Regions from separate parts of the Homo sapiens genome. Here region 2 is linked to region 1. A link means that fine-mapping ties the variant in region 1 to the expression of a gene that starts in the linked region. Tissue or cell type: whole blood. Region 1 holds a variant in brackets; the other region holds the start of a gene. All regions are shown on one strand. Distances are between the middles of the regions.

Region 1 (4,144 bases):
GAGGCCGATGCAGGTGGATCACCTGAGGTCAGGAGTACCAGCCTGGCCAATATGACGAAACCCCATGTCTACTAACAATACAAAAAATTGGCCAGGCACAGTGGCGTGCGCCTGTAATCCCAGCTACTCAGGAGGCTGAGATGGGAGAATCGCTTGAACCCAGGAAGCAGAGGTTGCGATGAGCCAAGATCGCTCCATTGCACTCCTGCCTGGGCAACAGAGCAAGACTCTGTCTCAAAAAATAATAATAAATTTAATTTAAAAAAGAATAAATTGGGGCTGTGATAAAAATTAAAGAGAAAAAAAATCACTCCTTATTTCCACAGCTCAAAGATAATAACTGCTGGCAATTTTTTAACATGTTTTCTTCACGTAAATACATGTAATTGTCACATATCTCCCAGAGAGTCTGACACCCAACACTTTACTCCTAAATGCCTCGCCTTTTCCATCCTGGGAAGAAGCACCGGGCAAGGTGGCTTACGCCTGTAATCCCAGCACTTTGGGAGGCCGAGGCAGGAGGATCACAAGGTCAGGAGATCGAGATCATCCTGGCTAACACAGCAAAACCCTGTCTCTACTAAAAATACAAAAAATTAGCCGGTCGTGGTGGCAGGCGCCTGTAGTCCCAGCTACTTGGGAGGCTGAGGCAGGAGAATGGCATGAACCTGGGAGGCGGAGCTTGCAGCAAGCCGAGATGGCGCCACTGCACTCCAGCCTGGGCGACAGAGCGAGAGTCCACCTCAAAAAAAGAAAAAAAAAAGAAGAAACACTTTCTCCTATATAACCACAATGACAGGATTCCACAGGAGAAAATTTTCAGTCATTCCCTAAGACTTAGTCTTTCCTCTGTTTCCACAGTTGTCCAGACAACGTCTTTGGTGGATAGCATTTTTTTTTTCTTTTTGTTTTTTGTTTTTTTTTTTTTTGAGACCGGATCTTGCTCTGTTGCCCAGGCTGAAGTGCAATGGCGCAGTCTTCGCCTCCTGGGTTCAGCCTCCCAAGTAGCTGGGACTATAGGCACGTGCCACCACGCCCGGCTAATTCTTGTAGTTTTAGTAGAGATGGGGTTTCACCATGTTGGCCAGGCTGGTCTCGAACTCCTGACCTCAAGTGATCCACCCGCCTCGGCCTCCCAAAGTGCTGGGATTACAGGCGTGAGCCACCACTCCCAGCCAAGGTGCCACACTTTTAAATAGCCAGATCTCGTGAGGACTTACTGTCACGAGAACAGTACCAAGAGGATGAGGCTAAACCATTCATGAGGAATCCACCCTCATAATCCAGTCATCTTGCACCAGGCCCCACCTCCAATACTTGAGATTACAATTGGAGGATTTGGGCAGGAACACAAAGCCAAACTATTTCACTGGCCAGCGACCAGAGAAGGCTCCTGGTTGGGGGACATCTGGGTTAAGCCTTCAAGAGGGATGGCCAGTGGGAGGCCAGGCACGGTGGCTCACGCCTGTAATTCCAGCACTTTGGGATGTGGAGGTGGGTGGATCATTTGAGTACAGCAGTTCGATACCAGCCTGGCCAACATGGTGAAACCCCATCTCTACTAAAAATACAAAAAAATTAGCTGGGCATGGTGGTACACGCCTATAATCCCAGCTATTTGGGAGGCTGAGGCACGAGGATTGCTTGAACTCAGGAGGTGGAGGTTGTAGTGAAGTGAGCTCACGCCAGTGCACTCCAGCCTGGGCGATGGAGCGAGACTCCATCTCAAAAAAAATAAAAGGGATAGCAGATGGGAATTCTCTAGGAGGATGGTGGGTGCAGGGTAGGCATTGCCCACAGAGGGTAGAGGCTGAAGAGCCACACAGGCAAGGGTAGCCAGGTTACACAGAGGCTAAGGACGGTCTCTCCTGTTCTAGATGAGTGTGGCATCGTGGCCCAGATCTCAGAGCCCTTGGCTGCTGCAGACATCCCAGCCTACTACATCAGTACTTTCAAGTTTGATCATGCACTTGTGAGTGTCCAGCGCCAGACCCCTCCAGGGCAGGGCCGGGGTGGGGAAGCAGGTTCCTGGGCTCACGGGCAGGCATCTGCCTCCTCTACCCCTGCACAGGTCCCCGAAGAGAACATCAATGGTGTCATCAGTGCCCTGAAGGTCAGCCAAGCAGAGAAGCACTAGAAGGGTCTCTTCTGCTCCTCCCTGCCGCCGCCCGGGCCCAGCCCTAACCCTGAAGATTGATCTTGCAGTATTTCTCTACAGACTGGAAAATCAGCCTGGGGACCCTGAGGAAGGGGCCTCTGTGGGAGACTCCCTCGATTGCCAATCCCTCCAGGGCAGGGGCCCACGCCAAGGCCTCTCCATGCCCTCCTGCCTTCCCGGAGCCCCCCGACCCTCCAGAGAACGACCTTTCTCTTCCCTACCTCCCCCACCCCGGAAAATGCTTTCGGAGGCCCAGGGAGCTTGTGAGCTGATCCGCCTTCTCATCCGG[C/A]CTCACCCACGGCCAGGGGCAGATGCCGAGGGAAGCCGGTCCCTCCTGCGAGACACCGGTGTGCCAGCTGTCATGTCACCTTGCAGGGCTGGGGCTGGCGGGGTGGGGCCGAGTTTGGGGTGCCCTGGAGGGTTTGGGGGTGAGTACTGTGGTCACTGGTCTCTGCTTCCATCAGCTCAGGGCTGGTTCCCTCGGAGTGGAGGCCAGCGTGGCCCCCTCAGGTCATCGGGGCTGGTGAGGCTCAGACAGGAACCCAGGTGGGATCCCCGAGCTGGGAAGGACCCAGACTCCCCCTGTACCTCGCCTGCCAACCACAGGGCCTGGGCCCGACTCCCAGCAAGACTGCCAAGAGGGCCCTGTCCAGACCCTCCCCCACAAGCACTCAGTCCTTGGGGGAGGAGGGAGGGTCCCAGGAGACCCACCAGCCTGGAGCACCAGCTCCTGTCCCCTCGGCTCTCCCTGGACCCGACTTGGGCAGGTAGAGCCTCAGCTTCCCCCAGTAGGGACATCCCTGGCTTTCCAGGCCTGAGGTTTCTTAGGTGGTGTCCCACCTCCCCAACAGACAACTAGACCAGCATAGGACTCCCCGCCGTCCTCCTCCCTCCTCTGCCCCCAAGTCACCTGCCTGCCCACCCGCCCCTTGGCTGGGGGCTGTGGCATTCATGAGTACTTGACCCAGGAGGCAGCTTAACTGAGCCTTAATAGAGAAAACCATACTTTGTTTTAGTTTTTTATTTAATGTATTTGCACCCAGGGTGCTCTTGGCGGTAGTTTCTGTTTGGCAGGGATAGGACCTGTTTGAGTTCTGTCAAGGGAGCCTGGAGGCTCTGTGTCACTAAGCTGGTGCTCTGTGGCTCCAGGGACAGGCAGTGGGAATCGGGAGATGTCACAGGAGCCTGGGCCCTCTCTTCTGAAGGGAAGCTAGGAGCAGAGATCTGTTACAAGACGCTGGAGCCGCTGGCACCCCACATGGGAACTCCCACCAACCAGCTGTAGTTCTATCTGAGCACCGGAGGGGGTGAGGGAACCCGAGGGCCATGGGGAGGTGGACAGCCAGGTGGCAGGCCAGCTGAGTGGTCATGTCCAGGAGGCATGGGGTTAGCCGTGGTGTCCCTTCCAGTGGGGTGGTTTTCTGAATGAGCAGGACCAAGGGCCCCTGTGGTTTTGGCTCTGGCGGGGGTTTTTTTTTTTTTTTTTGAGATGGGAGTCTGGCTCTGTTGCCTAGGCTGGAATGCAGTGGCACGATCTTGGCTCACTACACCCTCCTCCTCCCAGGTTCAAGTGATTCTCCTGCCTCGGCCTCCCAAGTAGCTGGGATTACAGGCACGCACCACCACGTCTGGCTAGTTATTGTATTTTTTAATAGAGACGGGATTTCGTAACATTGCTCAGGCTGGTCTTGAACTCCTGAGTTAAGTGATCCGCCTGCCTCGGCCTCCCAAAATGCCGGGATTACAGGCGTGAGCCACCACACCCAGCCGAGTTGTGCTGTTTCTGTGGTCAGAGGAGAAGGGATATTTTCTAGTCCTGACAAAGTGTTCCCTGCTTCTCTGAGTGGGACCCTCTGAGCCCTGGAAGCCCACCAGAAGGAGAAGCTGTTCTTTAAAATCCTTGTGGGTGTTGAAGGCCCACCACATTAATTAGAAACCAACTTTTTTTTTTTTAAGTTAATTTGTTTTGCACAAAACTCCAGAACA
Region 2 (4,160 bases), 60 kb before region 1:
TTTTTTTTAAGAAACTGAATTTTATGCCTTCAGGCAGACTTCCCTTCACCTGTACCATTTCCAACATTTTTTTTTTTTTTTGAGATGGAGGCTCACTCTATCACCCAGGCTGGAGTGCAGTGGCGCGATCTCAGCTTACTGCAGCCTCCACCTCCTGGGTTCAAGCGATTCTCCTGCCTCAGGAGAAGGCACCACCATGCCCAGCTAATTTTTTTGTGTTTTTAGTAGAGACGAGGTTTCACCATGTTTGTCAGGCTGGTCTCAAACTCCTGACCTCAAATGATCTACCCTCCTTGGCCTCCCAAAGTGCTGGGATTACAGGCGTGAGTCACCGCGCCCAGCCACATTTCCAACTATCTGATAGCCAACTGCTTCACACATCTGTGTAATCTGTCTGGCCCCTGAATGCATTTCTGTTTGGGATTTCTGGATCTCTAGATTCTAAAGGCATAGATAGGTGCATTGATGCATTCCACAAATATTGAATGAGTGTCTCTCATAGGCCAGTCACTATTGCTGACAATGGGAACACAGCGGAGAACAGACAAAAATCACTGCCTTTGTGGAGTTGAGATTGTGTAGGGGAGAGACAGATAAGCTTTAAAAAAAAAATGCTGAGGCTGGAGGATCACTTGAGGCTGGGAGTTCGAGACTAGCCTGAACAACATAGTGAGACACCCCTCTCTACAAAAAGTAAAAAAAAAGGCCGGGTGTGGTGGCTCACGCCTGTAATCCCAGCAATTTGGGAGGCCGAGGCGGGCGGATCATGAGGTCAGGAGATCGAGACCATCCTGGCTAACACAGTGAAACCCTGTCTCTATTAAAAATACAAAAAAATTAGCCGGGTGTGGTGGCGGGCACCTGTAGTCCCAGCTACTCGGGAGGCTGAGGCAGGAGAATGGCGTGAACCTCGGAGGGGGAGGTTGCAGTGAGCCGAGATCGTGCCACTGCACTTCAGCCTGGGTGATGGAGCAAGATTCCGACTCAAAAAAAAAAAAAAAAAAGGCCAGGCATGGTGGCTTATTGGCTTATGCCTGTAATCCCAGCAGTTTGGGAGGCCGAAGTGGGTGGATCACCTGAGGTCAGGAGTTCAAGACCAGCCTAGGCAACATTGCGAAAAATACAAATATTAGCCAGCCGTGGTGGCCAGCACCTGTAATCCCAGCTAGCTGGGAGGCCAAGGCACGAGAATCGCTGAACCAAGGGGGAGGAGGTTGCAGTAAGCCAAGATCGCGCCATGGCACTCTAGCCTGGGCGACAGAGCAAGACTCCATCTCGGGGGGGAAAAAAGAAAGTTAAAAAAAAAAAAAAATTAGCCAGGCATAACTGTAGTCCCAACTGCTGGGGAAGCTGGGGTGGGAGGATCTTTTAAGCCCAGGAGTTCGAGGCTGTAGTGAGCTATGATTGCGCCCCTGCACTCCATCCTGGCCAACAGAGCAAGACCCTGTCTCTAAAAAATAAATAAATAAAAGAAAAAGAGTAAAAGAAAATAAAGTGGGAGGGGGATATGCATGCTCTAAGATCTATCTACCACAGATTACAGGCTTTTCACCCTTTTGTGGAAATGACAAAACCTAGTATGTTCCTACCTAACAGAGGAGGGCTGAGGGAAGGTGAGGGAGCACAACTGCAATTTTCCCCTGAAAGAGAGTTCTCAGCCTGCCCTGGCAGATAGATCTCACCCATCGCGTCCCCAGATTACTCTGCCAAAGGTGGAAGCACCAATCACTTTAACCCAGAACATTTCAAAACCAGACAGCCATGAAGGAGGAACCTCTGTGGTCCCGGCGCGTGGGCCCTGGGGTTGGAAGTGCCTCAGACGCACTTTACATTTTCCCCGAATTCACCCTTCGCAGTCCCCATCACCCCCTCTCCAGTGGGATAAATGGCCACCTCATTAGCTCTGCACACATGACCCTCCCGACCTGACTCCTGGTGACTATGCCTGCCTTATCTCTTTTCTCTCCTCCCTCACATTTTCCGCTGCAACAAAGCCAAACACAGCACCGTGGGGGCTTTCACGCTTCTGTGCCCTAGGACACGCTGTTCCTGCAGCCTGGAAGGCCTCTGTCCTCCATCCGCGCGCCCTCACTCTCTTGCTACGAACTCCCATTCATCCTTCAAAACCCAGCCTGAGTGTCCCCTCCCCCGGGTCACCCCCTTTGACCTGTCAATCCCCTCCCTCCGGGTCCCCAGCAAGCTTTTCGGTTTGGCTTCTCTGCACTCTCATGACCGATTGCCCTACATCTTGGCGCTCCCAGACTCGGGCCTTCTCCAGCACCGGAGTCGTCTGGTTTGCTCGCTTTACACTCCAAGCACCTAGTACCGAGCCTGACTGGGTGCCAGAGGGCGCGCCTAGGCTCAGGCTGGCTCCACCCGCCCCGTGCCTCCCCTCGGCCTTCCCCTTAGTCCTGAGGGTGCCCGCGCTCCTGCATTTCCCGTGCACCGGGCTGCCGGTAGCTCCGGCCGCCCAGCCCCCGCGGCAGCAACAGCAGCAACAGCACCGGGGGAGCCCCCCCCCAGGCGGACTACAAGTCCCGGCAGGCCGCGCGCGGGCCGCGCATGCGCAGCGGGGACCGGCGTTTGAGTGGCAAGTTGTTTGTTACAGCGAACACCAGCTGCTCCCCGCGCCGGGCGCCGCGCGCCGCTGCTCCGCCGCTCGGCCCCTCGGCTGCTGCTCCGCCGGCGCTGCCTCCCTCGCCCCGCGGCTCCCCCTTGCAACTTGGCGGGCCTCCTCCCTTTTGTCCGGCCCGGCCCGGCCGCCGCCGCCCCCCGCGCCCGGCGCCGAGCTCCCGGGTCTCCGGGCCGGCTGTCGGTGCCGGCAGGGCGCGGAGGGGGCGGGGGCCGCGGCTCGTCCCCCCGCGGATGAGCCGCCGCGGACGGGGCGCGGGCGGACGATGGAACTCCACATCCTGGAGCACCGGCTGCAAGTTGCCAGCGTCGCCAAGGAGAGTATCCCGCTGTTCACCTACGGCCTGATCAAACTTGCCTTCCTGTCCTCCAAGACCAGGTAAGCGCGCGGGGACGCGGCGCCGGCCGGGGACAGACAAAGGGGGCGCACCCCGGGCCGCTGTCCTCGCCGCCGCGCCTCGGAAAACAACTTCGGGCCCCGGGAGCGCCCCCGCCCCGCCCCCGCCGCCGCTTCGCTCGCGTCTGACAAAGCCGGAGCCGCAGGGTCCTGGCTCCCGGACCCCTCGCAACCTTCCACCCCCCGGTGCGCCACCCCCCACCTCTGTCGTCCCCCCCATCTCCCACCCCCTCCCCCATCGCAGCCCCCTCCCCGAAATCCGGGGGGCTGGGGCGGCTGCAGTGACGGATCCGTGAATGGATGAAGGAACGAACGAATGAATGAATGAAAAACAGGTGTGGGGACGAGGCCGTGGAAAAAACAAACGCCCCCATCCCCCCATCCCTCGGTTGGGCCGGCCCCGTCGCCACGGCGGGGGGAGGGATTCCGCTGAGCGCGGTTACCCAGAGCAGAAAATCATAAAATCATTAGTGGGTGTTTATCTCAAGGTGCCTACGAGGCTTGCTGCGGACGGCCTGGAATTGCGGGGGGGAAACGGGGGGTGGGCGAGGGCCAGGGAGGGGCTGCAGAGGACGTGATTCTTTCTCCTTGGGGTCCTGGAAAGGGGGTGGGGGGGTGTTTTGCCCAACCGTAGAAGGGGAGGAGCAGGCATGTTTATGCATCTGCCTTGAGGCTGGGCTTGGATGCTGCAGGGGGAAAAATAGTTGAAGGCCTTGGAAGGTAAAAGAGGGAATCACACACACACACACACACACACACACACACACTCTCTCTCTCTCTCTCTCTCTCTCTCTCTCACTTGGATTTTCCCTATGCCAGGTAAGGGTTTGACATTGTGAGCCCCGGTGGGTGCTTGCATTAGGGTTTTGTTGTTGTTGTTTAAGGAGCCTGAGCCGAGGGGAGTGTGAGTGCCAGCTAGCTGCTGTAACTTAAGTCTCATTTGCCCACCATTGTGACTGTTAAAAAGGAATGATAAAGTTGTTACTGGTTGGTTTTTCGCGGTTTGGGGCGGTGGTGGCTCTCCCTCACTGCAAAATGAATGAATACTTTTCGGGTCAAGGTTAGCGTGAAAATGACAGCCCCCTTAGGCTGCCCCCTTTGGCACTGAGCTCTAGGGACACAGGGAAATAAT

The links. PIP is the estimated chance that this variant, and not a neighbour inherited with it, causes the effect.
Region 2: it holds the start of CASTOR2, and the variant in region 1 is fine-mapped to the expression of CASTOR2 in whole blood (INTERVAL, PIP above 0.99).

Annotation. Positions count from the first base shown.
Region 1 is chr7:75,022,563-75,026,706 of GRCh38, forward strand. It overlaps CASTOR2 (cytosolic arginine sensor for mTORC1 subunit 2), which reads left to right. Exons shown (of 9, transcript NM_001145064.3): 8 at 1,878-1,972; 9 at 2,072-4,144. The coding sequence ends at 2,137. Among named protein-coding and RNA genes, the nearest start is that of RCC1L, 49 kb to the right of the region's middle. The variant C/A (reference allele first, on the strand shown) is at 2,448.
Region 2 is chr7:74,962,089-74,966,248 of GRCh38, forward strand. CASTOR2 (cytosolic arginine sensor for mTORC1 subunit 2) reads left to right here and starts at 2,617. Exons shown (of 9, transcript NM_001145064.3): 1 at 2,617-3,010. The coding sequence starts at 2,898. RefSeq lists a silencer at 2,355-2,464.